Regions from separate parts of the Homo sapiens genome. Here region 2 is linked to region 1. Evidence: fine-mapped expression QTL. Tissue or cell type: esophagus muscle. Region 1 holds a variant in brackets; the other region holds the start of a gene. All regions are shown on one strand. Distances are between the middles of the regions. Region 1 overlaps GALNT13 (polypeptide N-acetylgalactosaminyltransferase 13). Region 2 holds the start of GALNT13 (polypeptide N-acetylgalactosaminyltransferase 13).

What was found.
Region 2: it holds the start of GALNT13, and the variant in region 1 is fine-mapped to the expression of GALNT13 in esophagus muscle (GTEx, PIP above 0.99).

The regions. Positions count from the first base shown.
Region 1 is chr2:154,428,764-154,444,569 of GRCh38, reverse strand. GALNT13 (polypeptide N-acetylgalactosaminyltransferase 13) reads right to left here. Exons shown (of 13, transcript NM_052917.4): 12 at 5,844-5,978. It overlaps GALNT13-AS1 (GALNT13 antisense RNA 1), which reads left to right. Exons shown (of 5, transcript NR_161181.1): 5 at 6,720-8,717. Among named protein-coding and RNA genes, the nearest start is that of GALNT13-AS1, 21 kb to the left of the region's middle. The variant C/G (reference allele first, on the strand shown) is at 8,508.
Region 2 is chr2:153,864,329-153,880,134 of GRCh38, reverse strand. It overlaps GALNT13 (polypeptide N-acetylgalactosaminyltransferase 13), which reads right to left and starts at 8,213. Exons shown (of 13, transcript NM_052917.4): 1 at 7,832-8,213.

The DNA.
Region 1 (15,806 bases):
ATTTTGTAATAATAGCAGCAGCAGCTAACACTTCTTGTGCTTGCTATCTGCCAGGATACTTTATGGGTGTCAGTCTCACTGCATCTTCACCAATATTACATGTTGCTGCTAAAAACATTTCTTGCTGTATTGAAAGGATAAGCAAGAAATGAATACAGTAACACACATAAAATGATTTTTATTTATGTTTTTTAAAAACTTTTTTTCATTTTCTTTGGCTACATTTCTACTATGCTGTTTATTCAAGTCCTTGCACATTTCTATATGTGGTATACTATTTCCCTTTCAAAAAGTATAGTAATTAAGGGTTGATATGCTCTTTATTAGGTATATCAACCCTTAGTTATATCTGTTTTTGTTGCAAATGCCTAATTAGTCTACTTTTGTTTTGTTTTAGAGAAAGGGTCTCACTATATTGCCCAGGCTGGCCTTGAACTCTTGGGCTCTAGCAATCCTCCCATCTCAGCTTGCCAAGTAGCTGGTACTACAGGCCCATGCCACTACATCCAGCTATATTAACTCAACTTTGAAGACAATGTGACATCCAGGCTGACATGCAACTTACTGCCAAATATATTTTCCTATAGCTTTATTTAAAATATTGACTAAAAATAGGATCATCTAAACCCTAAGATAGTATTGAGTTTTGTTTATAATATAGTATTACTTTATTGTTCTCCTCTAGAATGCAAAGCCTTGGTATTGCCTGCAATGTAGAATATTTTAATCGTAACATGTAAAAATACATAAGAAAAATATTAACGATTCATGCCTTTAAATATATTTGCAAGTTTGACTAACATAAAATGTAGCGTGGAGTATCTCTAACTTTACCCTTCCAAATATATAATTCCTACTTAAAGCCAACTGGAATCAGGCTAAACAATTTTGGTGACAAAATAAGAGCCATTAATATTGTAAAATTAGGCCATACCTTGGTATTAAAACATACTAATTTAAAAAAATAGATATTTTAATGAACTGACTGCATAGTTGATTTAAGAGCCAATCGCACAGGTCTCAGTTTAAAAGTTGGTATAGTAAAAGATTAAAATAAAACCCAATCAATTATGTTATTACATATAATCATATACAAAATAAGTATAAATTTGTACTATATTTAATTTAATAGCAAAGATAATAGGAGTTCTTCTGTTAATCAAGCATAGAATAACAATTAAAAATTAATATAACAAAGTTGTTACTCAAAACATTAATTATGATCTCCAGACAAGGTAATCTACGCATTCAGTCGAACAGAAATATTATAAAATATGAAGTGTAATCATTTAACATATAGGAACTACAAATATGACGCTAATCTATTGAAATTCCTACTCACTACTTCTAATAAGAAATCACAGCTATGGGTCAATAGGAATATGGAAAGGTAATAACTGTGTAATGCACACAACCTTCAAAAGGTAAATTGAGCCATTGTTTTTCTTAGGAATGCTACACAGGGGAATGGCTGGGATGCACTTAAAGATCACTTACCTTGAAATTATAATCCCATTTACCTGCTCTCTAATAAAGGTAAATAAAAGATGGTAGTGTAAGTAAAGTCTAAATATTAATCTAACACATTTCACCTATGGAAAAAAATTCCTTATATTGTGACTCTGGAAATTATTTGATACAGATGTATATAGAATTCACAACAAGTATTTTCTAAGTCAACTTGCTCAGTCACATGAAAAATAAGTTATTTTTAGTATCATATTTTTCTCCCTTTTTTTCTTTGTTGCATAGTGTTTGTTGAACATAAGTGTTCTGATCTAAAATTAGATTCTCACACTGTATGTAGCTGCCTAGTTATTCAAAAAGAAATGTAATTATGTGCACATATCATAGGGAAATATTCTAAATTGATTGGAACATAATTATAATGTTCAAACAGAATATAAGAACACCTGAAAACAATAGAATTAATGGATGACAGAACTTTATAAAAATAATTTTTAAAATGTCTCAGTGAGATGAATTTTTTTCTCTTCATTTAATCCTGGCAATAGGCATTTCATGGCACAGAAGGGTTTGTGCAATTTATTTAAGCTTCCAGACCACGTAGGTACCCCACAATTTTGCTAATGATGCCCAGGATGCCCTCAATTCAAACAGGTTAGGCCACATATAAGATGACAGTGAATTGAATTCGTGGTTATTTAAGGACTATTTAGTTAGGGGTGTGAGAAACTACACTTGAAATCAAAGTTGACCAAAGAAGTGCATTTATTACTAACATGTGCTTAGTTTCATTCAATTACAAGGATAAGCAATTAGATATTATATTATGAATATGTATAGCTGAAGTTTGTAAGCAATTAGAGCAAAATGACAAAGTAGTTTTATGACTGCTTATTTAGCTAAATGGACCATATTTATTGTAGAACACCTTTCCCCCTATTAAAAAAATGAGAAATTTTAGTTCAAAATTTGGCATAACAAATAACTGATAGCATTTAGCTATTCCATTTGAAATACTGTATATTTAGCTTATTATATCTTAACCACTGAAAGAGAATCTAATTATTTCCAGTTTTTCGACAACATCAAGAGGCAATGTAGTGTAGTAGAAAAATTGCTGGATTTACTGCCAGAATCTGGCTGTGCAAACTTAAACGAGGCATTTACCCTATGCTTCATTTTACTAATGTGAAAAATAGAATAACTGTCTTATAAGACTATTGTAAGAATTGCATGAGAAAACAGATAAATACGTGTTGAACTGTATTCCTTCTCTTTTCCCCCACTCACCTAAGAAGTAAACAAAACCAAAGTAGCTGGATAGATTCCATCTTTTGAGGCTTCATGACACTGTTTCCATTTTTCTCTGGATATTCCAACAATCTTGCTTCTATTTATGACTTTCTTTTCTAAGATTGAAAGGACTATGGGAGATAAGGTGATGGAATATTTGTGCTGTTCACATGGTGAGATTCACAATTGTACTGATAGCTAGCTTGCTTGGAATACTTTATTAGGACCTGAATCCTAGCTCTGCTGCTAGCGGTGTAATCTTTATGCTTTAGTTCCTCCTGATAAAGGCTTAAAGGAGAGAACTTTAAGGTACATTTCAGTTCTGTAATTCTATGAACTCCAACAATTTTTATTCTGCCTTGAACCTGCACCACCTCAGAGATTTTTCAAAGAATAATTTTGTCCTTGCCAGCAAAAGATAAAGAATTGAGTTAAAGTAGTAAGCAGTGCGCATTTACTTTCCACAGGTTGGAATATGAGAAGAATAGAACCACTGAGCAATTATTCCTCTTTCTCATCTCAACACCTCTTATCCTTTTGCTCCCTTTCCCTCTCTCTGCTCCCCTCTGGAGGCCTTGCCATTTTCCAAATTGTATTCATGCCTTTTCCTAAATTTGTAACATTCTTTAACCAGTGTATAAAAAGACTATGGAAGATACATAGATATTTGACCCTGTCCTTTTCAAATGTAAATATGTATATGAATGATCGGAGATTTTGTTAAAATACAAACTTGGATTCAGTGTGTTTAGCATGGGTTCGGATCCTGCATTTCTAACAAGTTCCCAGGTGATGCTACTACTCCTGGAATCACCCTGTGGGTAGCAAGGGGTGGAACCATTCTGTGAACTAAAGAAACCCTAAATGTAAAACTGAAAAGCATAGTAATAAATGTTATATTTCAATTTTGTTTAAAAAAAATCCTTTTTAACGACCTTCTCAAAAATATAATCGCACATCAAAGCTGAAATTTCCAGAAAGGCAATGTATTATTCCTACAATTGCTCTATTCTCATGTCATTTATTAGATTATGACCTATGCATTTTTTAATTTGGCAAAGTGCTGTCATTAGACAATGTAAACATCACTAGTTAATTTTGAAAACATAAACATATAAGAGAATTTAATTAAGCTATATAATTCAGATGATCAAATTATTTAAAATAAAAATTTCTCAATATTTATGACATTTTATAAGCTTTTTGTGCGTGTGTTCCAAAGTCAAAGTAAACATGACACAAAATATTATAGTGCTCTGAAATACTGCAACAGATAACTACTAGTCATCCAAAAGAGTAAATTTATAGAAATCATTTATTTATCTACCTATGTGAAGCTACCTATTTTTTTTTTCACTTTTTACTTAAAATTCCTTAGTATTCAATAGCATTGCTACTAGCTGACAGAAAATGTAAACCAAAATATACACCAAATTGCTAACAGTAGTTATTTGAGAAATGAAAGAATTTGAGTTATGACATTGTTCACTCAAGAGTTATGGAAAAGTTTAAAGATTAAAAGTGGTATTCTAAAATTCCACACTGCTTGCTTTTATAAAAATGTACACGATCATTCCCCTTTCTTAATAAATATATTCTAGATTTTCTTATTTTTAGCATAAGCTCAGTAGAGCCCCAGGTTCCTGGTAGAAACGGAACAGTAACAACAAGAAGAACAAGTTTTATTTAAAAACAAATATCACTTACAGGATTTCTACTATATCTGTACATTTTACTGCACTTTTCCTCATAGAAGAGAGTACTGATGAAGGATTTACCTACATGTATTTTGCAAAGGCACTGTTTTCTGTAGGCTTAATATCAAGGATGGTACCAATAAATAATAGTTGAAGAGAAAAAAATTGGTGGTCAGACAAGGTGAGTAAGATATAGCGAAGGCAGTAGCATCTTAATCACACTGGTACAACATAGGAAGAATTCTCAGTGTTTGCCCTCAATTATGGCCCAGAAGATGATTTTGTGTCCTAAGATCCTGGTAACACTGTATGAGTGTTAGGCCCAAAATTAACCCTGCACAACCAGTTTCAAATCCTATGAGAATTCAGTAAATTTTTCTAGTATTCAACTTAAGAAACTACAGACTCATGCAAATATTAAAACGACATTCAAAAAGGTTTTTAAAAGGTCTTGCTAAAATATCAACAATACCAAAAACTCTGTAGATTGGTTTTTAAAATGTTATTCTTGTAGAAAATTTTAGGCTTGCATGGAATACTGCATCTGTGAGACTCATTTACCTCTATAGTAGTATTTATCTTTTAAGCAGAACGAAGTTTAGTTTTCCTTTTAAATAAATCACCTACCACTTAATAATGTGGGAAATGTAACACAGACAACCAATTCATTTTGTTAATCAAAAAAGAAAACTGAAAGAAATGAAGCTGTTTTCAAGAGTAAGCTTCGTTATGCAAAGGAAAATATTTCTTTTTTATTAGCTCCATCTGATGGCTGATCTGGTTTTTACACACTGCCTGGAGATAAATTTCCAACAGTAATTTTGTGGTTTTCTCTCCCTCTTCTCTGTCAGAAAGGTGTGCTATATTGAGAAGAGGCTACTCAACTTTTTATGTGACTAATTAGTTTACTGAATTCTGCAAAATATTTACAACTGTAAACAGTAAAGAAATCTTGTTAATCTTGTCAGATATTGTTCCTTCCAGTTGAGGAACATAAATGTCAGTGATTAGTATTGTAAAATTTAAAATTTGAAAATATGGACATATTGTCAATATTATCCTGTATGCACATCTTCATACAAACCTCTCAGATAGGCTTAGCTTACCTCTTGCCTAATTTATGTTTGGCATGTACATGGAGATAACAAGTTGTCATACACAAAACTGATTTTATTGTCCTCATTCATATTTTATATTAATGGACCAATTTGGTGAAACCTGTTTATATGATATGCCATCCTAATATTACCGGATATGAGCCTGCATGCTTGAAAATCTAATTCTGCCAATGTAGATAAAAACCAGCTTAAGATTTAAATGTTGAATGTTGAAATATATAACTGAGCTTAAGCATCAAATAATAAGTAAATTAAGAAAATACTATACCTCAGCATCATATTCCCATAACTGATTTCCTCTCATATGGTGGCATTTTAACATGATTACAGGTCCATTGAGTCTAGAAACATCCAAGCACAAGTCATCGGTTCGGATTTCTTTGTCAGCAGTGTAAGAAAATACCTGAAAATATAAATTCAGCTAATAAAAAAAATGTATGTTTTAAAATGTCACAATAGAGCAGATCTATCCAGGGAAGCTTTCGTATCAGATAAACTTGTGTTTTCAAACGATTGCTGGTATGTTATCTTGAGAAAGCTAATTCATCTCTTTGAGTCTTTTTCCTCAACTGCAAAATAGGGACAAAGTCATCTGTTTTATGATGTTTTGGTGAGGCCTCAGTTTAACAAAACAAACCTTTAAATACCCATTATTTGCTGGCACTGTAGTTCTTTCATGATACTTGCATTATAAAGCTCTCAATAGGTTAAGTAAAATAAAGTTTACAAACTGCATGGAGCTCAGTGAAGGCAGTCCCTGTTCCTACTATTGTATGACCAGTTCTCCAATTCTACAATGTCATTTTTTCATATAGAAGTTTAAATCTTTCTTCTGATAACATAAGTACATCGTGTAAGTTTTATTAAATACTGTCAGTGAGCTTCTGAAGGTTGTAGAAGTATCTTCTCTAGAGATCTTATTAAAGGTAGGCTCTACACTTATCTCTCTAATATGGTTTGCCTAAGCTTAACTACATCAATTCTTCTGAAAATATCCAAGAAATGTCACGGTGGATTATGGACTCTTTGTTAGATAATTCAATTGAACTATAATAATCTTTATTATTTTGTTCCTGGTGTGAATAATTTATTTACAACATTGATTATTAAGGTTTCATGAGGGTTTTTTTTTTTTTTTTTTTAGATGGAGTCTTGCTCTGTCGTCAGGCTGGAGTGCACTGGCGTAATCTGGGCTTACTGCAACCTCCGCCTCCCGGATTCAAGCGATTCTCCTGCCTCAGCCTCCCGAGTGGCTGGGACTACAGGCATGCGCCACCATGCCGGCCTAATGTTTTGTATTTTAGTAGAGACGGGGTTTCACTATGTTGGCCAGGATGGTCTCAATCTCCCGACCTCATGATCCACCTGCCTCGGCCTCCCAAAGTGCTGGGATTACAGGTGTGAGCCGCCATGCCCAGCCTCATGAGGGTTATTAAGCACATAATTATAGAATGTGTTTTCTTCTTTTAACTACGATAAGCATTGTTCAGTATTCTGTGGGTTTTTCTTTCTCCTTGCAATGTCAACAGAATACATAATGAGAAAGGTCATGTCAGGGTCTTTTTGTTTCTCAAAGATATCTGATGAAATCTGAGGAAGTCAGCTTTACAAATAACATAAACTCTGGAGCTCCGTAAGCTGAACGAGTTAGTCTTGGAAGAGTTGCCTCTGCAGCATTGCTACTCAGAACTTCTATGAAAACCACAAGAAGTGGTGAGAGGAAGCGGCAAAATCAATGACAGAACACAAATACCCTCTTCTGCCAACCGCTTAAAAGGAAATTATGGGGGGCTGGGTCGGTGGTTCGGTGGCTCACGCCTGTAATCCCAACACTTTGGGAGGCTAAGGCGAGAGGATTGCTTGAGCCCAGGAGTTTGAGACCAGCCAGGGAAACATACAGAGATGTCAGCTCTACAAACGATAATAAAAAGAAAATTATCCAAGCATGGTGGTACACGCCTGTTGTCCCCACTACTTGGGAGGCTGAGTGGGAGAGGCTGAGGTTGGCAGATTGCTTGAGCCATGATCACACCACTGCACTCAGTCTGGGTGACAGAGCAAGACCCAGTCTCAAAACAACAACAACAACAACAACAAAACCCAGAAAATTCTTCACAAAGGTTATACATTTTCTCAATAATATACAAATTTGAGAAATGTGAAGTACATTTAATTGAATTATGTAAAATATAACACAGACTTCATATATTCAATTCACAAATAAATTTTCTAGGTTCTTTACTTTTTCATGTTCATATGTTTTTTATGAAGAACATATGGTCACCTAAGAAGAATAAAATAAAAACCCATCAAACAGAAATATTCATATCCTCCCCAAACCGTATTATCTTAAACACAATTACAAACTTATTTAATTACACAAGTGAGAATCTTAAGCTGAGAGAAGAAAATTTCTAGAGAAATTTCTTTTGTTCATTATAGGATTATTTCAATACTGAAGGATAGTCTTCGACATTAGAATTGCTTCCTTTTAAAGTGTACAAATGCCAGTGTAAAAGGAAACATCATAACATCCATTTCAGCCTTAATTTTCTAATGGCTCAGGCCGTTTTTATACAGTGTATTCTTCTCCAGTGTCTTAAGATAGTTTGGAAACAGTACCTGTTGAACCTTTCAGAGAGCAGTCTACCATATATCCCTTGATCCTCAATTTCTAATTTAGATTCATTTGTGGTTGTTACAGTTATAAGTAACGTACATTTAAGAAAGATATATCTGTAGAACAGTTTCTGCACTTATATGTGTATATAAATTATATGTCTGCTAAATTTTTTTTGGCCTTTGTACTTGAAAAAAAATTAACAGATGTTAAAATATTTGGCTCACAAGCAATGTTAAAAACAATCTGTAGATAATGCTTCCTTATTTTTCTTGGATTAATGTAAAATCAGGATTAATTTGCTTTGTGTAC[C/G]TGGGAAATAATCTCGTTTGTATGCTTGTTTCTAGGATGTCTTTTACTCTTCATAATAATAAAAAAGTCAGTGCATGTCAGTATATACATATCCTTCTTGATTTTATCTGGAAATTATTAGGTTTGATCTCAATTATTTATCATTTATATCCATTAGCTTTTTAACCCATAATTGTCATTATTAAAATTTTTTTCATGTTTACTACTGTGAAAGGTTCATGGAATTCACTTTGGGTATACTGAAAACATTATATGTGAAATACTTTGCAGAGATTCTAGCACACAGACAAAATTCAGTAGCTGATATTTAGAGTTATTATTCCCAGTCTTGGAGTTAATCCCAAATTGAGGATTTCTTCCCAATACTGCCAAGAAATTTTAGTATAAGGGTCCAGCAATGTTTGCTCTTGCCTGTCTGTGCTGACCCTTGGCCACTACACAAGTCCCGAGAGAGAGTTTATAATACCTGATGACAGATGTTTCTGATAATTTCAGCATTGTATTATGACCCTCTAGATTAACTACTTATGAGTTCCTTTATGACTTTGGGGACAATCTCCAAATCTCATGCTGTATTTCCTAGGAAGCAGCTATTCCCTATAGCTGTTGCTTGTTTTTCCATCTCACTACTCCACAGACACTCTCAGTTAGTATGTGTAAGGCCCAGCCTGTCCTTGCTGTGGTTGAAACCTTTATGCCTGACTATGTGAGTTAAAATATTTCTAACCTGCACACCAATGAAGCACTTTACCTTAAACTATCACATATACTGATAACTACACGATACAAGATTGATTCATTCATTAATAAAATCTCATTGTACATTCTCTTAAAATAATGGAAACTATTCTTCTTCCTTTTCTAATTATCTCTCAAATTGCTTTATCATCGGTTACCAATAGTTAGTAAAGCAGAACTGTGTTACATGAACCATAGATTTAGCATATGTTTCCATTTGTTCCAGTGGCAGCCTGACTTTAATGACAATTAATTGGTTCAAAGTCTAATCACTTTGATTAAGCTGACTAGAAGCAGGGAAAAACAATCAATTTCTGTGCCTTTCCTTCCATTATAAAAGAGGAAACAGGGAGAAAGTTAACATTAATTGAACACTACCTTTTTTAAAAAATGTGTTCTATGCTTCGTATATATTACATTAAATAAATTTGCTCTATTCTTCTATTGTGCAATTACATTTATATTTCTATGAATGTATACCAACTTACAGTACTGCAAAATGTAACATGTAGAGCTCTTTGTATGAATCCTATGGATTTAGTAATTTATAGTGTTTTTAAAATTCTGTTTCACACTTAATGTTCATGTTGTCTCAACTGTAAAATTATGAGCTATCTAGTATCACATATATTCTCATGTAGTCCTTCAGTCAAGCTAGGTCTACAAACAACCACTAAAATGGCCATTTTTGAGTCAACTCTTTTAATCTCAGCTATCTTATAAGACGGTGATAATGATACAGGTGATGATGTCTATGCTCCATTTTATGGACCTTGTTGATTATTATGCCTTAATCCCAGCAGTTTGGGAGGCCCAGGCGCATGGATCACGAGGTCAGGAGATTGAGACCATCCTGGCTAACACGGTGAAACCCCGTCTCTACTAAAAATACAAAAAATTAGCAGGGTGTGGTGGTGGGCGCCTGTAGTTCCAGCTACTCTGGAGGCTGAGGCAGGAGAATGGCGTGAGCCCGGGAGGCGGAATTTGCAGTGAGCGGAGATCACACCACTGCACTCCAGCCTGGGCTACAGAGCGAGACTCCTCTAAAAAAAACAAACAAACCAACAAACTAATCACTGTAATAACTCAGTTTTTATTGTTTACTGTTGTATTAGTTCACTAGGGCTGTCATAACAAAGTACTATGGACTGGGTGGCCTAAGCAACAGAAATTTATTTCCTGACAGGTTTGGAGGCTGGAAGTCCAAGATCAAGATCTTAGTAGAGTTGGTTTCTGCTGAGGCCACTCTCTTTGGCTTGTAAGAGGGATCTTCTCCATGTGTCTTCACACGGTCTTCCTTCTCTGTTTGCATGTGTCCTAATCTCCTCTTTTTATAAAAACACCAGTTACATTAGATTAGGGCACCCTAATGATGCCAAAATTCTTTAAAGACTCATCTCTAATATGGTTACATTCTAAGGAACTGGGGGTTAAGACTTCAACATATGAATTTCTAGAAGAGCACAATTCAGGCCACAACACCACTAACCCTTTACAATGTATTGGAGTAGATAACATATCTTTCCTTATTCCTAAATGAAAAACATGGTGTACATGAATTTTTTTTTTTTTTTGGCTAACCTGTTTAGATCACCTTGGGATTCAATTCAGAAATTAGAATATACTGTTTAGTAGTACTAATCAAAACTCTAAATGTAATGTAATATCAAATAATTCCCCCTTCTTCACATTGGGCCTAATTTATGTTGGCAGCCTGCAGAGGCAAAGGCTTTTTCTGTTTTACGACTTAAGCTTTTTTTTTATTCCTCACTGTTCCTACCCACTCCTAAATTCACCCAGTCTGCTAATCAATTTATTTTTTATTTTTTATTTTTTTATTCTTCCAGAGTGGCAAAGCTGTAAGAGAGGTCTTACTTGAACTGGTTTGTATAACTCCTTCCTGTTCTCTGGCCTGCCAGAGATTTAAAGCTCCCTGTCCTGAGACCATTTGGATTTTCTTAGAGATTCCCATCTCTGAGCACCTCTTAACTGAAGTGCAAAGAGAGAGGACAATGCATATTTTATAAGTGAGCCACTTTTTGTGAAAACTCTGGGAGGCAGGCTAACCTTAGGCAGTGCAGTCAGCTCCCTGTATTCAGTTGTCACAAGCCAGCCTTATCATGTGTGAGTCAGGCCACAGCCTGCCATATTCTCAAGTACCAGAAGCATATACCAAGCTCTCCAACTGGCATCCTGCATAATTTGCAGGTCCCAGTGCAAAATGAAAATGCAGAACTTATTTTTATAAAATTACCAAGAATTCCAAGATTGTAGGGATCTGTGTGATTGCATGGGTTGCAAGCTCAAGAACTTCCTGGCCTTGAATCCTCCTCTTACTGGAAGCTAGAATCCCAGCCCATCTCCTCTAGAGGGAGGGCAACTAATCTCTCCAGGCAAAATCTTGTAATCTTCTTCATATTCTGATACTTTCCATTATGGGTTGAACTGTGGCTCCCCAGATGATATATTGAAGTACTAACCACCAGTACCAAAAAATGTGCACACTTATGGAGATAGTCCTCATGATGAAGTCATACTGGAGTAAGATGGGCCCTTAATCTAAAAGGACTGGCGTCCTTATAAGAGAATAGAGACAGAGAAAAGACAGCCATGTGATGATGGAAGTAGAGACTGGAATGATGCATCTACAAGCCATGGGACACCAAGGATTGTTGGCAAACACCGGAAGCTAGAAGAGGAAAAAGATGATTCTCCCTTAGGTTTCAGAGGGAGTATGGCACTTCTGACACCTTGATTTCAGACTTCTAGCCTCCAGAACTATAAGACAATAAATTTCTATTAAGCAATTTACTAGGTTTCTATTAAGCAACCTAGTTTGCAGTAATTTGATACAACAGCTCCAGCAAACCAACATACCTCCTTTTCCTCCTCATGCTGGTTGAAGTGTCTAAAGTCACGAAATCAGATTTCCAAAGTGTCTTTGCAAATTTTGCACAGGAAAATCTGATTTTAGATTGTCATTGCAAATTTTGCATAGGGAAATCTGATTTTACATTTCACATTTATTGTATCTTGGTATCTGGGCTGAAATTTTAACATCCAGTTATACTTTCCAATAGTATAAAATCAACCATTTTCAAAATACTTTTATATTATAGCTGTATCTTCATAAAGGTGTTTTATAATGTGACTAGGTGATTTCCTGATTTTATGTATACTTTATTGAAGTCGTAATGATTTCTGCTTCTGAATTTATATTGTAATCAAATGAGTACTATCTATAATGGATGATACTACATATAAAGCCAATTCAAATCTCAATTCCTTTTAATCTCTGTATTTTTCTTTTCATAGATGATGTTTTAGTCCGTTCTCACACTGCTATAAGGACATACCTAAGACTGGGTAATTTATAAAGGAAAGAGGTTTAATGGACTCACAGTTCCACATAGCTGGGGAGGCTCACAATTGTGGTGGAAGGTGAAGGAGGAGCAAAGGCACATCCCACATGGTGGCAGGCAAGAGAGCGTGTGCAGGGAAACTGCCCTTTATAAAACCATCAGCTCTCGTGAGACTTATTCACTATCATGAGAACAACATGGGAAAAACCTGCCCCCATGATTCAATTATCTCCCACCAGGTCCCTCTCATGACACGTGGGGATTATGGGAGCTACAATTCAAGATGAGATTTTGGTGGAGACACAGCCAAATCATATCAGATGGTAAGCATTCTTTCTTTTTCACGTACATGTATGGTTTGTTCTGGATTTTTCTTTTTAGGGAGAATGTCCAAAGACATTTTACAATTCTTCAAATACCTAAAACATCTAAATAATTTCAAGGACTTCTGTGAGAAGGATCTAAAATATTCTGTTAAATTAATTTTATATAATGAAAGACTAGGTGTCCACATTTTTTTTCCCAGTTGTATTATGTTTAAAATCCTAATATATGTATAGTTACTTCTTTTAAAATACTCTTTTTTCATGACCCTTTAGAAAAACTACAAACAAACGTTTTCTCAAATCTCTAGCATGAGCCTGTGCTAATGAAACCTTGTTCCAGCAGTACACGTTACAAAGTAAGAAAGCAAAGGCATTGCTGTATTATTGGGACCTGAATCTTGTCTCTTTCTGCAAAGATCTCAGGAATTAAATGCCCTTTACTTGCTTTATCTTGCCACAGGGTTTCTTTCTTTCCTTTTTTTAATCCATAGATGAAGAGGGGTGTGAGTGTGTATGTATGTACATGCATATACACAGGCAAACTTCAGAGATACTGTGGGTTCAGTTTCAGATCACTATAATAAAACAAGTATCGCATTTAAAGCAAGGCACATGAATTTTTTTGTTCCCCTGTGCATAGGAGTTATGTTTACACCATACTGTAGCCATATTAAGCGTGCAGTAGCATTGTGTCTCAAAAAACAATGTATATTCCTTAATTAAAAATATTTTATCGTTAAAAATGCTAACAATTATCCTAGCCTTCGGTGAGTGGTAATATTTCTGCTGATGGAGGGTCTTGCCTCAATGCTGATGGCTGCAGACTGACCAGAGTGGTGACTGATGAAAGTTAGGTGGATGTAGTAATTTTAAAAAATAAGACAACAATGAAGTTTATCACATCAATCAACTTTTCCTTTCACTAAAGATTTTTCTGTAGCATGTGATGTTTGATAGCATTTTACTCATGGTAGAACTTCTTTCAAAATTTGAATTAATCCTCTCAAAACCTGACACTGCTTTATCGACTTGAGTTTATGTAATATTCTAAATACTTTGTTGTCATTTCAACAGTGTTCACAGCATCTTCAATAGGAGTAGACACCATCTCAAGAAACCACTTTTCTTGATCATTGATAAGAAGCAATGCTCATTCATTAAAGTTTTAGCTTGAGAGTGCAGAAATTCAATGACGTCTTCGGGCTCCACTCCTAATTCTAGTTCTCCTGCTATTTCCACCTTATCTGAAATTATTTCCTCCACTGATGTCTTGAACCCCTCAAAGTCATCTAAGAGGGTTGGGATTAACTTTTCCCAAACTCCTGATATTGTTGATATTTTGACCTCCTCCCATGAATCACAAATGTTATTTACGGTATCTAGAATTGTGAATACTTTCCATAAAGTTTTCAATTTACTTTGCCCAGATCTATTACAGGAATCACTATGGCAGTGAGAACTTTAGAAGACGTATTTCTTAAATAGTAAGACTTGAAAATTGAACTTGCTCCTTGATCTATGGTCTGCAGAATGAATATTGTGTTAGCAGACATGAAAACATTAATCTCCTTGTACATCTCCAACAGAGCTCTTGGGTGACTGAGTAAATTATCAATGAGGAGTAATATTTTAAAAGGAATCTTTTTTTCCTCAGAAATAGGTCACAACAGTGGGCTTAAAATATTTAGTACACCATGTTGCAAACAGATGTGCTATAATCCAGGCCTTGTTGTTCCATTTACAGAGCACAGGCAGAGTAGATTCAGCATAATTGTTAAGGGCCCTAGGATTTGGGGAATGGTAAATAAATGAACATTGCTTTTGACTTAAAGTCACTCGCTATATTTTTCCTAACAAGAGAATCAGCCTGTCTTTTGAAGCTTTGAAGCTAGGCAATGACTTCGCTTTTCTAGCTATGGAAGTCCCAGATGGCATCTTCTTCCAATTGGGTGCTGTTTTATCTACATTGAAAATCTGTTGTTTACTGTATTCACATTTATCAATGATCTTAGCTGGATCTTCTGGATAACTTGCTGCAGCTTCTCCCTCAGCACTTGCTACTTCACCTTGCCCTTTTATGTTATCTTTCTTTCCTTAAAACTCATAAATCAACTTCTGCTAGCTTCAAATTTTCTTCTGCAGCTTTCTCACCCATCATAGAATTAGAGTTAGGGCCCTGCTGTGGAAGAAGTTTTGGTGTAAAGGCATTTCATAGCTTGTTTGATCTTCTATTCAAACCACTAAAACTGTCTCTATATACGGAATAAGGCTGTTTGCTCTCTTTTCATTTATGTGTTTACTAGAGTAACACTTTCAATTTCCTTCAAGAATTTTTCCTTTCCCTTCACTATTTTTCCAGCTGTTTGGTGCAAGATGCCTACTTTTTGGCCTGTGTCGGCTCTTGACATACCTTCCTCACTAAGCTTAATCTTTTATAGCTTTTGATTTAAAGTGAGAAACATGTGACTTTCCTTTCACTTGAACACACAGATGCCATTGTAGGGTTATTAACTGGCCTAACTTCAATATTGTTGTGTTTCAGGAACAGGAAGCCCTGTGGAGCGAGAGATAGGGAATGGCCAGTCTGTGGAGCGAGAGATAGGGAATGGCCAGTCTGTGGAGCAGTCAGAATACACACAACATTCATCAGTTAAGTTCACTGTTGTTATATAGGTACAGTTTGCAGCACCACAAAACAATTAACAATAGTTAGTGGTGGCAGGCGCCCGTGGGAGGCTGAGGCAGGAGAATGGCATGAACCCGGGAGGCGGAGCTTGCAGTGAGCAGAGATCGCGCCACTGCACTCCAGCCTGGGCGACAGAGCGAGACTCCATCTCAAATAAAAAAAAAAAAAAAAAATCACTGATCATAGA
Region 2 (15,806 bases), 560 kb after region 1:
TAAAGATCTTATGAGGAGCATTACAGGAAAATAAATTGTTTCTTATTTAGTATAAAGATGTAAATCTTAGTTACGTATTTGAAGTATATATGGTTATTTTGTTATGGATTGAAACAAACAGCTGTTTATTTTCCAAATCTTTTAAAAATATTCTTGTCTGCAACATTATGTATTACTGATTATTAATATTGTTTTGGTCTAATTAGAGGCCAAGTCAATGATGACACTACTTGAGGAAAACCACTCTGATTTTTCCATGTTTACTATCCCATTCATAATTATATTTATTTATCTGGTGCAACAACTTCTAAAATATAAACTTTTTAAAAATTTTCCAACTCGAGAAATATCAGCTTTTCTTCCTTCACTTTCAAAGGCAAAACTTACTCAAATAGGGAAAAGACATAGAAATCTGTGTTCTGTTTTCAATTCTGCTACTTCAAGTTTTGTGGCTCAAAGCACGGCCAGGATCAGTGGCTCATGCCTGTAATCCCAGTACATTGGGAGGCTGAGGCGGGAGGACTACTTGAGGCCAGGAGTTTAAGACCAGCCTGGGCAACATAGTGAGACTCTGTCTCTACCAAAAAAAAAAAAAATTAAAAATTAGCCTGACATGGCAGCACATGCCTGTAGTCCTAGTTACTTGGGAGGCTGCGCCAAGGGGTTTAAGGCTACAGTGAACTATAATTGCACCACTGCACTCCAGCATGGGTAACAGAGGCAGACTCTGTCTCAGAACACACACACACATGCACACACACACACACACACACACACGTAGGTAGTTTTAATTATTTTATCAAAATTAACATCATCCTTGCCCTTCCACTGATCTTCTTACACTGGCCAACTTACTTAACCTTTCTGTGACTCACTTTCCTTGTCTCTAAAATAAGAATACTAATAAAATCTACTTTTGAAGGTCTTTATGATTAAATGAATCAATATCTGCAAAGCACTTAGAACAACTCTGGGGCATAGTAATTGCTGTGTTTTGTTAAATAAATCTGTTAAGTGATATACTACAAGCAGATTAGTTGCTTGAAATGTCACTGCACCTCAGAATCACATAGGAAAATGTGCATAAAGGTAGATTCTGTGGATCCATCCCAGTTAAATGAGACTCTGTATCAGTGGGACCTGAACACCTGTAACTACAATGAATAAATAAACTCAAGGTAATTTGGATTTACAACCTGCTTTGGTAGAAATGAAACTAATGTCTTAGGTCAATTTAGCCACATTTCACACACTCCACCAGTATTCTTTTCCTCTTTGATGGCCCAAATAGACACTATCTAAAGCAACCTGGGATGTAAAACCAACCACCAGTTTTACAAGAGCACTAACCAAACCTGCTTCACTTTCGCCAAGGCAAAGAAGTAAAAATGGAGCAAACTGACCCGTACAAGTTGGGATGTGTTTTTTGGAGGGAAGATGGAGAAATTAGTTCTGACAAGCTCTTTTTGTCATTGCCCAATATTCATTTCCAATCCCAGGACACAGAGTGGCACCATCTTAGTGTCAGTAAATGGCAGTTAACTACCAAGAAGGAACAAGTCATCCCTAATCTTCCAATCATTTCAACAAACATTAACACAGTAAACTAAGGCTAAAGCAAGTGCTAGCATCTTTCCTAGGTCCAAATTTTATTTGAAACTAGGAAGAGAATGGAATAAGCTATAAGCATTATGTCATCAAGTCATGAATATGATGACCATGCCGGCCAGAGCTGTGTGGGTGCATAGAGTAGGCAGCATATCACAGTGGTTCAGAGTAAGATGGGCATCCAAGCACAATCTACGGGAAATTTTTTGTGATGAAATTTTCATCAGTCTTGGGTGAAATTAGGAAAATGAGTACAATGTGGAAAAATGTACAGGGAGCTTAATTTATTCTCTTTAAATAACTATTATTTATTTTGAGATTCAGTTCTTCCATGTTATTTGGTGTTAAAATATCCACTTTTATAAAATTGAGATGATAGAAGTAGACTTTTTCAATCATTCTTACTATACAAAAGAAAATAATCACATAAAGTTTACCACTTGATTTTTTTAAATTATCAGTCAGTGAAAATGTCAGACTGAGAACTATTAGATTATTGGCTTCAAGGCAGAATAAACTGGTGTCATCCTTGATGCTCACACATATTAGCTGTGTGATTCTGAGGTGATGCCTCATTTATACAATGGCAACAGTAACATACTATTACTCATATTGTTGTTATAAAGATAAAACATGTTAAGACCTGCCAGATGTTTACTTACCACAGTACAAATACAAAGTAAACAACCAACGAATTTTAGCCACTTTATCAATTTATAACCCAATACACCATCTTACCTTCTTCATAAATAAGCTGGAATGGATACACCTTTACATATATTTTATTCCATTTTTCTTTCTTTAAACTAATGGTTGTATTTCATTGGGGTTTTGATAGTCATATAAATCTCACCTTCTCTATCTGAAACTAATTATATAATAATAATCTCAAGAGGAAATTAAGTCAGTTATTATGCTTCTAAGCTACATAATCCTCCTCATATGTCAAAATCCACTTTATTAACAAAAAAGAGGTGCTTTGCTTGTAATATCAAGGCAATTAATATAAGACAAGAGACTAAGTTGACATTTACTACTATCTTCAAGATGTTATTTGGATGATTTTTGATTGTGCTATGCTTTTAAATTCTTCTTTCTGTTTACAGTGGCTACTCACCACATGCATTACGTTCACCAATGTGTCAACAAGCAGATTAATCACACTCTTCCTAAAATGTTGTATAAGAGCTTAAATAAGATTTAAGTGACAATTCAATGTAGTGGAATATATGAAACAGAGTCCCAATTAATTCCTCTTCATGTTAAAACCTTAACATGATATATCTTGCACAGCCCCCATCTATCTTAACAATGAGCATATCTTTAAAAAATATGAAAGAAATCTAAGTATTTATTATGGACATTGTATTTAATTTTCTCACATAGTCTACAAGATGATAACAAATATGTTCATATCTATGGTAATAATAGTCATTCTTCTCCCTACATCCCTCTCAAACTATCTTGAGAGGATTAACCATTAACCTGGAACAATTTTTAATAACTGATATTTTGAATTGTGTTTGAGTTCATTTCTGAAGGGTAGGTAATTATGGTAGTGTACACATTAAGAGAGAGCCTGACAGTTCATGAGGACTCTAATTACGTGGACATTGAATGAAGTTGAGCCCTTAAAGGAAAAGCATGTCTCCCAACTTTAACTTAACAATTTAAATTTTAGATCCCATCAATCTCTGCAGTGATAACTTTTAAAAATTAAGAATTTCATTTAAATGTATAAGTCTAAAGACATACTAAAAACAGCTTGAAAAACTCATAGCTATAAATGAATTTAAGGACATGAGAGCACACAGTAATCAGAATCACACAGATGTCTTTAGCCACCTGTAATCATTTCTTGGTAATCAAGCTAACACCAATTAAATGTATTATAATAGATACACTACACTGAAAACACAGACACAGGTCTAAATATGAAATCAAGAAGAAACAAATATCAAGTGATTAAAGTCTGTTTGGTTTACACTGCTCCTCCCAAAAACTAGATATAATTGTTTATAATGCCCCAAACGGATGACTATTACTGAATTAAATGTATTCATTTTCATAAATTTCCTTGAAAAGCTAAATTTCACAATGAAAAACCAGACTTTTCAAACACAGGTATGCATATATTTGAATGGCAGAAGTCCTTCAACAATGTGCCTTGATAGAAATTGTAAACAGAAGTCTAATCTGATAAAATAATAAATGGTTTATCAAAGCAGACAGTGCCAGATCTTTAAATGTGATTTACGTTTTCAAACATATGCTTAGCCACTGTGTGTGTATGTGTGTGTGTGTGTGTGTGTGTGTGTGTGTGTAGTGTGGGGGGGTTGCTGTTAGAAATGTCATTAAATAGGTTGTCAGAATAAATATGAGTATATATATGTAGGACTTGATTTGATGTTTCACATGTGTTTATTTTGATGACAAGAGCAGAGGGAAGGATTTAGAACCAAAGCCCAGTTTAAATCCTTTGATAATTAGGCATATGGTCATTCAGACTTCAAAGCAGTGATCCTGTTAGATCCCATTAGATTTAAGATGTCTACATGTTCCTTCTGACAGGGACACAAATACAAGAAGGTGATGTACTAAGAGTCGCTGTCAAGAATGTGTTGTTTGTTGCAAGAGGTTTCTCTTTAAAATATCATGTCTAATAAGGCAAATTAGTTAAAGGTCATAACTATATGAAGTGTCCATTTTTAAAAGGACAATGAACACCTAACAGAGATATGTAGCATTATAATTTATTTTAGACAGTAAGGCTTAATTCTATTCCTACTTTATTCTCAAGCATTTTCTCGACTGTTATTATTCAGAAACACCAGGATTCTCTTCATCTGCCCATTCATAAAGAATAAAAATACCCATTTGTTACTGTTACTTCTTATCTCACCCCTTTCCTAAAATCCCGAAGTCTTTATAAGCTGTACAAGCTCTATTACATGAAAATGCTCCTGTTACAACTACTATTTCTAGAAATCAACTTGGCATGATAACAACATAGTTCACTCTGACATAACTGTTTAAACTGAAATGACTGCCCAGTAAGTTAAAAAGTTAGATGCATAAGTTAAACCTGTAAAACAAATAGAAGGTCTCTCAAACAATATCAGATTTTCCACCTTCATTATGTCTTTGCTATTTTTAAATATAAAAATTGGGTACAGTATCAAGTGATTTATAAATAATATTTTTAAAGAAAAATTGCTTTGAACATGCTCCTGCACCATACTCATGATAAATTAGCAACTATTTTAAGAGGTGACTAGCATATCATCAAGAAAGTAGTATTGCTGCCCATGGATTTCTATTATTACTTTGAATTAGGAGGCATTATGTTTCCAGGTACTTTAGGAAATTCTCACATTCATGCAGTATCGCACATCTCATATATATATATATATATGAAGCAGTAGGGGAATCCATAAATTATTTAGGGTAAGTGATCCAGCTTACAGATCAATATATAGCCCCCAAGTATTTTAAGCTGATATATCTGTTCTTTATATTAAAAGAGAGAACTTTTCACTTGTTAGAAACCACATGAAAGTATTCACCCAAAAATGATGCCATGTCCCAACTTACTTTCAGGTAAGGAGATTGAGAGATGCCACATTTCAGGGCCCCTCTAAACTCATTTCTTCAATTCTGCAATGACTGTGTTAAAGAACACCAGCCAAGTTGTAGACTTGCAAAAAGGGGCAAATTCAAGCAATAACATGAACTACAAAGAAGCAGAAGACCCCTGTTTCAATATCCCTTCTACTAGTTCTCAATTACCATTCATAAAAAATCTAAATGAAACCTCCCAAAAAAGGAGCGGGGAGGTGGAATTTAGCTGCAGGCTCCTTAGCATACCTGGTAACTTGGAAGCCTATGATCCGCTGCATGCTAATCAATCAACCAACAAGTTTTATTAAGCACTTACTAGTTTCCCCACACTGTCCTAGGGACTACATATCTGAGACAGCCTCCATTCTCACATTCCCACTCAGGACTTTCCGAACTGGAATTAATCTATACCAGCAGTACCCTATAATTCCTTTAGAAAAGCTTTCTATTCTTCCTCTCCAAAGCGGATCCGAGACACAGTGCCCCTACTTAAGCAAGTACCTTAAGCCCTGGAATGGGATAAGCATCACAGAAATGGTGAAATAAAAGCATTTATTTAAACAAGCAGAAGCAGCCAGGAAAATTCTCCATGGAATTGAAGGTGGATAGGGGCTAAAGGAGAGATGTGAAATCCTGGTTTATGGCAAACAGTGCAGAGAAATGCATCTTTTTAATGTTCAAAGTCTGCCTTAGGCTACGCAAATTCTCCAGACCTATCCAATTCCCAAATCAAACGAACAGGGTTTCAATATGAAGGTTCTTATTCTGCAGGAGACGTGGGGAAAGAAAAAAAAAAAAAAAACAGAGATTGCGGGAGGGGGGTGCGGGGGGAAAGAAAGATTAGTAATGTAATGCAAAAGTCATTCTTTGAGGAAAAGGAAAGGATGCGTGTAATACAAGGAGAATTATCCCGGAAGGTGAGAGGTCCAAAAGTAAATAACCAATAGGTTGACCTTACTTTTCAATATTCTCGAACCAGCAGGTTTCTTTAACACTAGAGGGCATGAACGCAAACGAGACAGAGAGAGAGAGACAGGGAGACAGCGAGAGAGAGAGACACAGAAAAAGAGAGAGAGAGAAAGAGAGAGAGACGGACTGAGACTCTGAGGAAAGGCAGCTTTCACATAAAGCTGAAAATATTCAAGGATACCAGAAATTTCAAGGGGGCTTTGGCAGCCAAGTGCCTTTAGCCTTGCGAATAAAACCTCTATGTTGTTATGTTGTTTCAGGGAAGGCTGACCACGATCTCTCCAAGGAAACCGCTTTCCTAAGCAATGAATGCATGGTAGTTTAAGGCAGGCATACCTCAGTCCCCAAAGCTCCTCTCCTCTGCTAGCAACACCTTTGCCTGAAGAAAGCTCCCACCCTTTCGAGGTTAGTTTCCCTGAACCCCAAAGCATCTATGTTTGCCTGCTCACTGTCCGTTCTTCTGCAGCTGGCTATAAAGGTTGGGGAGGCAGACTCTCCTCCTGGAAATTCAACTAACCATAGTCAAAGAATCGGGTATGCGGGAGGGGCTTGCGCAGCTTTCGCTGTCCAGAGTAGCAGCCTCAGTGCGCTCAGGTTCGCAGCAGCGCAGCGCCCTCGGACCCGGCAAGGGGAGCCTGCTGCGGTGCCCTCCACTCTAACCCCTTGCGCCCCTCCTTCAGGTCCACGACAGCCTGGACAAGGGCAGGCTGTCTCCTCCGCGTCCCCACTGACCCCGCAGGAAAATCTCTGCACCTGGAGATACCCATTAGATGCGCCAGGGCTTGCTCCCCTAACCAAGGCGCTTCGGGATCGCGGGGCTGGTGTTCGGGAAGACGGGGCAGAGAGATGACAGAGGGAGACAGAGATAAGCTGCGAGAAGCAGACACAGAAAGAGAACAAATGTTGCAAAACGGAGAGACAAAAGGAAAGACAGATTAACAGGGACACAGATATCCCAAGAAAGAAAGAGGGAAACAGAATAAGAGAAAAAAACAGATACATGGCCGGAGAGTGTGGACTGAGGGGACCAAGGCTCAGAAAGAGAAACAGAGGCAGAGACACACACGGCGAGAATGAGAGGCAAGAGGACTCTGAAAAAGCGAGGCAAAGGGGGCACTATACGAAGGCAACCGTCGAGGAAGACACCCAAGACCCAGGGAGCGCCTGGTGTCGGGTCGAGTAGAAACGCCCGCAACGCAGCCGGGGCTGCCTGCAGCTGGTGCGAGAAAGTTGTCTGGGCTTGGAGGCCGAGCCACCCCCGCGGAGGAACGTCACCAGAACGCAGAGGGGGCCAGAGCCGCTCCCCCCCCCCCCCCCGCCACCAACAACTCACCGGGGTAGCCAGAAAAGCAGAGCAGAAGGTGGGCGGCGGCAGAAAGTTCCGCGCCACGCGGTCCTCCCGCAACACCTGCAGCCCCGCAAGCGAGCGCACTCGGAGCTCCCGGGAGGCCGCGTCGCCAGGTCCGCCCGCGCCCCTGCCTTTGCCCTGGGACCGGCCCGGGGCGCTCGGCTCCGCGCCCCGGCACTCGCCGCGGGACTTTGCGGCACCTAGCCCCGGCACTCTGGCAGCCCAGAGGGAGCTCGTCCCAGACAATCAAGAGGAAAAGAGGGGAAGCGAGAAAGAGACGGAGACCTGCTATCCTGGCCAACGATCCCGCGAAGAGGGAACGGCGGTCCACACACGGGATTCAGCCTCAGATCAAGCCCAGCAGGCGCCGGCCGGCCGCGCCGAGTGCGGGGCTCGCCGAGTCCGCGCTCACCTGGAACCCGCGCCGGCCCGCGAGCGCCGCGCGCAGCCCCGGCTCCCGCCCGCGCCTCTCTCTTCACACTTGCCCGCGAGCAGAGGGAGCCGGCTCCAGCCTCGGCCAGCCCCAGAGAGGGGCCTTCATAGCGCAGCGGCGGGCTGAAGGGCTCCTCGAGCGCGGCCAGAGCGGACGCTGAGGCCGAGGAGGCGCCCAGAGCGAGCGAGGGCTGCTAGCACGTTGTCACCTCAGCAGAGCCGCCGCCGCCTGGTCACTTCTCCCCGGCCCCCGCCCCCCTCCCACCCCAGCCCGCCGCCTCCCGGTCCCTCCTCCTCGCGTGGTCCCTCCTCCTCTCGTAGCCCCAGCCTGGAGGCCTCTCACTGGGCTAGTATCATTTACGTAACCAGCACCCCCAGCCCTCCTCCCTCCCTGCTCCCGCTCCTCCCCGGGCTGGGGCGGTGCGCACCGAGCGCGCTCCAGCTGCTTCTGGAGCTGGCGCTTCTGCGATGTGCGCAAGTCCCGCGATACTTGGCAGGCACGGCCCCCAAGAGCAACCCTGGGGTCAGCTCCTCTCGCCGGAGGGCGCCTCGCGACCCCTGGCCGCTTTGGGGCCCCACAACGCCAAAGCCGGCCTGCGTGCACCGCGTTCGCCCAATGCACCAGGGAGCCTCTTAGAGGGGAGCTGGAGGATCAGAGACTGCCCTCGGGGAAAGCGCCGGCAACCCCACCCTTGCCGTCGGCTCTCCAGCCGAGAGATGCTGCGGGGTACTTGACGCTTCGGCGCCCTCCGCAGAAAGGACGGAGGTTGGCCTCTTGTTGGTTACAGTATCTACACCCTGGCAGGATCCTAGTGTTCTGGTTGGCGGTGACTACTGCCACCGAACGCACTGTAAGAGTACTGGAAACACAGAGCGCTTCCTTGTGGCTCTCAAATTTTTATGAAGAGGTAAAGAAAAAAGTGGGGCTTTGAATTCCTTTCTCAGGCAAGTAGGTATGATATTAAACACACACCCACTCCGAAGTACCTGGACGTATGAATGTCTCAGTTAATGTGTTGTACCAATACCCCCATGGTACTGAGTTTAAATACATGTAAAGATTTTAGAACAGTGCCTGGCACAAGGCAGAAACCTAAGACGCAGACATTATTAGCGTCTCAAAGACTTGGGACCTGTCCCCCACTGCCATGGGAGAGGAACTTTTCTAGGAAATTGGGATTGCCGAGTTCAAGTGCCTGCTTGGCAATTTATTCACTGTGGCTCTTGGCTAGTTTTGGCCCTTCGGGTGTCAGTTGTCTTGTTTGTAATAAGGGCTGACAGGGGTCCTTGCTTCTCACAGTGTCACTTCACACATCTTATAGGATGTTTTTGGCAGAATTGGGGGAGGATATAACGACTACATAAAAATATTAAACAGCCACGTTTGACAAACATATGATACTATTAATCATAATCTAGTATGTCAATGCCATTCTTGATTATACTCATGAAAGGCAATTTCCAGAGATATTATCTTTATATCTTTTCGTGAGTCAAGTATCATTTAAATTTCTATGTTAATAACTGTATTAATGTCTCCTCCTACATTGTCCATCCTGCCCTACCGTCAATTATGGAGCATTTACCAGAGATGCTTCTGTGCATGTGTGAGTACACAGGGTCCCACTCATAACACTCTGGAATGTCTCTCTACTGCTCTCTCTAGTGAATTCCAGTCCTAACATCAGGTCACTCACCTCTACATGGCATACTGAGAAAAACTGTGGACCAGGTAAAAGATTGGGGTTCTGATGCTGATACAGCTACTTACTAGTCCTATGTTTTTCAAAGACAAATAAGCCCCCATTCTTACATGTTTCATCTCTTAAAAAAAGGCGCAATTCCATTTTGCAGTCTTTGTGATAATATTTAACTTAGGCAGAATCATAAACTTGGTAAAATTTATTTGGGTAATTGGATATTTACGTAGTCCCAAAGTATCACCCTAGAAAGTATTGGCTTTTGGTGCATAACACACCATTCCAAAACTTATTAGCCCCAACCAATAAACATCTGTAATTTCTCAAAGCTCTGTGGGTTGTCAGGTTGGTTTCTGCCCTGGCTAGCTCAGTTTGGTTTAGAGATCTAGGATGGCTTCACTCACTTGTCTGGTGTGGCATACTTATTAGTCTTGAGGGTGTGGGACTCAGCTGCAATGTTTTGTCTTTTGTTTAATCTAGCCCATCATCCTTCAATAGGCTAGCAGTAGTCGTAGTTGCAGGGCTCCAAAAAGCAACAAGGGAGTGCAAGCTCCAATGTGAAGTACTCTGAGATTCTGTGGACGTACATTTGCTGGTGTCTCATTAGCCATGGAAGTTACATGGCCCAAACATAGATAATATAGTCCATGTCTTGATGGGAGAAACTATAATGCCATATTTCAAGGAGAATGCATACACAAAAATAACTTGAGGCTGTTTTTATAATATACTATAGATCCTTAATTACAAACGAATAATAAATTACATGTAGTGGATAAATCTGGTAAACATCACCTTAACCAACTGACCAAGGTTAAAGTCACCAATAATGGGACCAAGTGATATCATGAGCCTCATGATATGATGCACTGAGAAGTACATAACATTATTGATTTAGGATTCCAGATTAAAAAATGCATAATTGAATGCAATCACGAGAAAGCAAAGAAAGCCTTAAATTAAGGAAAATTCTACACAATATCTTGCCTATACTTTTCAAAAATGTCACTGTGATGAAAGTCAAAGAAAAGCTGAGGAAATATTCCAGACTAATGGAGATTTAAAAACCATGACTACTAAATGCAATGTGTAATCCAGAATTGGAGAGCAAACTGGGAATAATATCTATTAATATAAAGAGCATTACTGAGACAATCTAATTCAAAATATTAATAAAAACTATAATATCTAAACTGTATGACTTTTATTTATAATCAAATTAGTTTTATATCAATATTAAGTGTCCTAATTTAATTGTATTGTGATCATATATAAGAAAGCCCTGGATCTTTAAAAAATATAATAAAATATTTTGCAGTAAAAAGAACATAGAGGTTGTAAGGTCCAGAAATACCTATAGAGAGAATGATGATGCAAATGTGGCAACCTTTTATAACACCATTGGTAAATTTTGGTGAGGGGTATGTGTTAATTCTTTGTAGTAATTTTGCAATATTTCTTGAAGTTTAAATACTTTTTTAAAAATCAGGTAGTTATCATTATTTACCTCATAAGAATAATAACCACAATAATTTATCTGAATGAGTGTTGAAAGTTATTAAAAAGTCATATTTTTTCAAACAGAAAGTTTGGCATTTATCTTTAATCAAAGTGGAGCTATTGCAAGTATTTGCTTAGATAAATGGTAAGACCAATACTGTACAATTCTTGGCTATAAGGCCAATACAAGGGCTACCAGGCCAAGAATGTCTATTGGCCAATATAAGGCCAAATGTATAGGGCCTTAGCTACAGAGTATACAAAAGACAGGGATATGAGTTTAGCAGCTACAATTGTCCATTATGTGATTAACCAAGGCGCTCATTCTAAAGGGAAATAAAGGGTGAGATAGTTATGTCTTGCTGAAATTAAATTACCAGGTTTTGGCAAATTATTAGGAATGATGGATAAAGGAAAATGTATTATATAACTTTAAGAGATTAAGATTGGATGAGTAGGATGATGGAGATGCCATTATTAAGGGACACTGAAAGCAATAACTTTATTTTCTAAAATGAAATCTAATAATATTTTCTTCTAATTATAACATTTAAGTGGCTTCTCATTGATTTTAAGAAATTGTCTAAAATCTCTAACATGCCCTATAAGAACCTTTATACTCTGGGGCTCTGCTTACCTCCTTTGTACTTACAATGAGCTAAGCACTGCAATAGGTTTTGAAGACAAAGAGGAAAGTAAAGACAGCCTGCACAAAACTTAGGGTTCAGTCATACATCCCATGAATATACATTGAGCACTTACAGAATGACAGTTATTTACTAGGAACTGGGAATACAGCAGTGAGCTAAGGCTAATGCTCACTGCTATATTCCCAGTGCCTACCAGTGAGAAGAAGAAAATGCCTAGCACTGTCTAGCAGTGAGAAAAAAGATATAGATCCTGCCTTCATGAATACTACATTTTGCTGAGGTATGTCCTAACCCAAAGGTCTGCAACCCCCGAACCACAGACCTATGGCAGTCCATGGCCTGTTAGGAACTGGGCCACACAGAAGGATATGAGGGATGGGTGAGCCAGTGAAGCTTCATCTGTATTTATAGCCACTCCTCATTGCTCACATTACTGCCTGAGCTCCACCTCCTGTAAGATCAGCAGCAGCATTAGATTCTCTTAGGAGTGTGAACCCTATTGTGAACTGCACATGTGAGGGAACTAGGTTGTGCTCCTTATGAGAATCTAATGCCTGATGATCTGTCACTATCTCCCATCACCCCCAGATGGGACCATCTAGTTGCAGGAATACAAGCCGAGGGCTCCCACTGATTCTACATTATGGTGAGTTAGATAATTATTTCATAATATATTTCAATGTAATAATAATAGAAATAAAGTACACAATAAACGTCATGTGCTTAAATCATCCTGAAACCATCCCCTCTCCCAGTCTGTGGAAAAATTGTCTTCCACAAAACTGGTCCCTGGGGCCAAAAATGTTGGGGAGGGCTATCCTAACCAAATAAATAAGTAGGTGTGTATTTACGTCAGGTGATAATAAATTCTAGAAGAAAATTGAAATAGGCTAAGAGTTGAGCTTTTCAACTCATGCACCACAAATAGTTTATAGATATGCCATAACATATCGATCACTACACCCATCAGAAGTAGCCAAGTAGTGTAGCCTCAAGTTGCTAGGGCCCGTAATTAGATAGCCTGGATCATAAGAAACTTGATAAGAGCTTCTTGGAGAATGGCCTGCATGTGCAGTTCAAAGTATAGCCCATTGTGGGTGGGAAAGCAAGGAGGTTGGGCAGAAACTGCTAGTGGGAATAGCTCCAGCTAATAACACAAAGATTTAGCAACATAAAGATTAAGTAATTCTATTTCATATATAGTTGATTTGTTATTTTAGTGGTAACCATGTCAGCTGCAGATTGACTGTTCTTATAATGCACGGGCATTCTTCATATTCAAGCTTTATCATTATGTTGAATAGATTTGATAAAATCCATGGATAGCCACAAAAAAATTTGAATCAATTAATGAAAGAAAAGTAGAGATGATATATTTTAAATAAGATTTTAACTGATGTAAATATTTGGTCATAGAAGCAAATGTTTACAATCTTTCTCACCTATACTTGTGCAGACAAATTTTCTCATCATTTATGATGATAAACCTATTACACAATCATTTAAAATGTCACAATCAGTAAATAATATAGCTACTTCAAGCATAAAATCTTTTGTTAAAATGTTGACTTTATGAAAGCAATATCTCATTAAAAGTTTTAAAGTTTTATTTGTTTTATTTGGAAGTCTTATGATTCAATATATCTTATTATTATAGGTTTTGTAACAATAATTTCATGACATGAAGAAAGTATAATTAGTTTTAAACTAAGCTTTATACTAATACACTCAAATTTGCTCTAGTTTATCTTATTATCCATAAAGCCTTATATCATCTGTCATTTGCACCAAACACAGTGGCAAATTTACATTTTTCCATGACGGTGATTTGTATATATTTTCTCCACTATATAGTAGGATATATGAGAGCAAAAAAAATAGATTTATTTGTTTATAAAGGGAGGTGGTTGTTGTAACTTTATTCAAAGCACAGTGCCTTTCGTACAGTAAATTCCTGTTGAATGGATAAATAAATCCAACCATTTATTTTTTTTTATTATACTTTAAGTTTTAGGGTGCATGTGCACATTGTGCAGGTTAGTTACATATGTATACATGTGCCGTGCTGGTGCGCTGCACCCACTAACTCGTCATCTAGCATTAGGTATATCTCCCAATGCTATCCCTCCCCCCTCCCCCCACCCCACAACAGTCCCCAGAGTGTGATATTCCCCTTCCTGTGTCCATGTGATCTCATTGTTCAATTCCCACCTATGAGTGAGAATATGCGGTGTTTGGTTTTTTGTTCTTGCGATAGTTTACTGAGAATGATGATTTCCAATTTCATCCATGTCCCTACAAAGGACATGAACTCATCATTTTTTATGGCTGCATAGTATTCCATGGTGTATATGTGCCACATTTTCTTAATCCAGTCTATCATTGTTGGACATTTGGGTTGGTTCCAAGTCTTTGCTATTGTGAATAATGCCGCAATAAACATACGTGTGCATGTGTCTTTATAGCAGCATGATTTATAGTCATTTGGGTATATACCCAGTAATGGGATGGCTGGGTCAAATGGTATTTCTAGTTCTAGATCCCTGAGGAATCGCCACACTGACTTCCACAATGGTTGAACTAGTTTACAGTCCCACCAACAGTGTAAAAGTGTTCCTGTTTCTCCACATCCTCTCCAGCACCTGTTGTTTCCTGACTTTTTAATGATCGCCATTCTAACTGGTGTGAGATGGTATCTCATTGTGGTTTTGATTTGCATTTCTCTGATGGCCAGTGATGATGAGCATTTTTTCATGTGTTTTTTGGCTGCATAAATGTCTTCTTTTGAGAAGTGTCTGTTCATGTCCTTCGCCCAGTTTTTGATGGGGTTGTTTGTTTTTTTCTTGTAAATTTGTTTGAGTTCATTGTAGATTCTGGATATTAGCCCTTTGTCAGATGAGTAGGCTGCGAAAATTTTCTCCCATTTTGTAGGTTGCCTGTTCACTCTGATGGTAGTTTCTTTTGCTGTGCAGAAGCTCTTTATTTTAATTAGATCCCATTTGTCAATTTTGGCTTTGGTTGCCATTGCTTTTGGTGTTTTGGACATGAAGTCCTTGCCCATGCCTATGTCCTGAATGGTAATGCCTAGGTTTTCTTCTAGGGTTTTTATGGTTTTAGGTCTAACGTTTAAATCTTTAATCCATCTTGAATTGATTTTTGTATAAGGTGTAAGGAAGGGATCCAGTTTCAGCTTTCTACATATGGCTAGCCAGTTTTCCCAGCACCATTTATTAAATAGGGAATCCTTTCCCCATTACTTGTTTTTCTCAGGTTTGTCAAAGATCAGATAGTTGTAGGTAGGCGGCGTTATTTCTGAGGGCTCTGTTCTGTTCCATTGATCTATATCTCTGTTTTGGTACCAGTACCATGCTGTTTTGGTTACTGTAGCCTTGTAGTATAGTTTGAAGTCAGGTAGCGTGATGCCTCCAGCTTTGTTCTTTTGGCTTAGGATTGACTTGGCGATGCGGGCTCTTTTTTGGTTCCATATGAACTTTAAAGTACTTTTTTCCAATTCTGTGAAGAAAGTCATTGGTAGCTTGATGGGGATGGCATTGAATCTGTAAATTACCTTGGGCAGTATGGCCATTTTCACGATATTGATTCTTCCTACCCATGAGCATGGAATGTTCTTCCATTTGTTTGTATCCTCTTTTATTTCTTTGAGCAGTGGTTTGTAGTTCTTGAAGAGGTCCTTCACATCCCTTGTAAGTTGATTATATATCTAGAAAACCCCAGTGTCTCAGCCCAAAATCTCCTTAAGCTGATAAGCAACTTCAGCAAAGTCTCAGGATACAAAATCAATGTGCAAAAATCACAAGCATTCTTATACACCAACAACACACAAACAGAGAGCCAAATCATGAGTGAACTCCCATTCACAATTGCTTCAAAGAGAATAAAATACCTAAATCCAACCATTTATTGATGAACAGTTAAATCTTTCCTTTAAGACTTTCTGTTTTTGATCTTTCCTTCCCC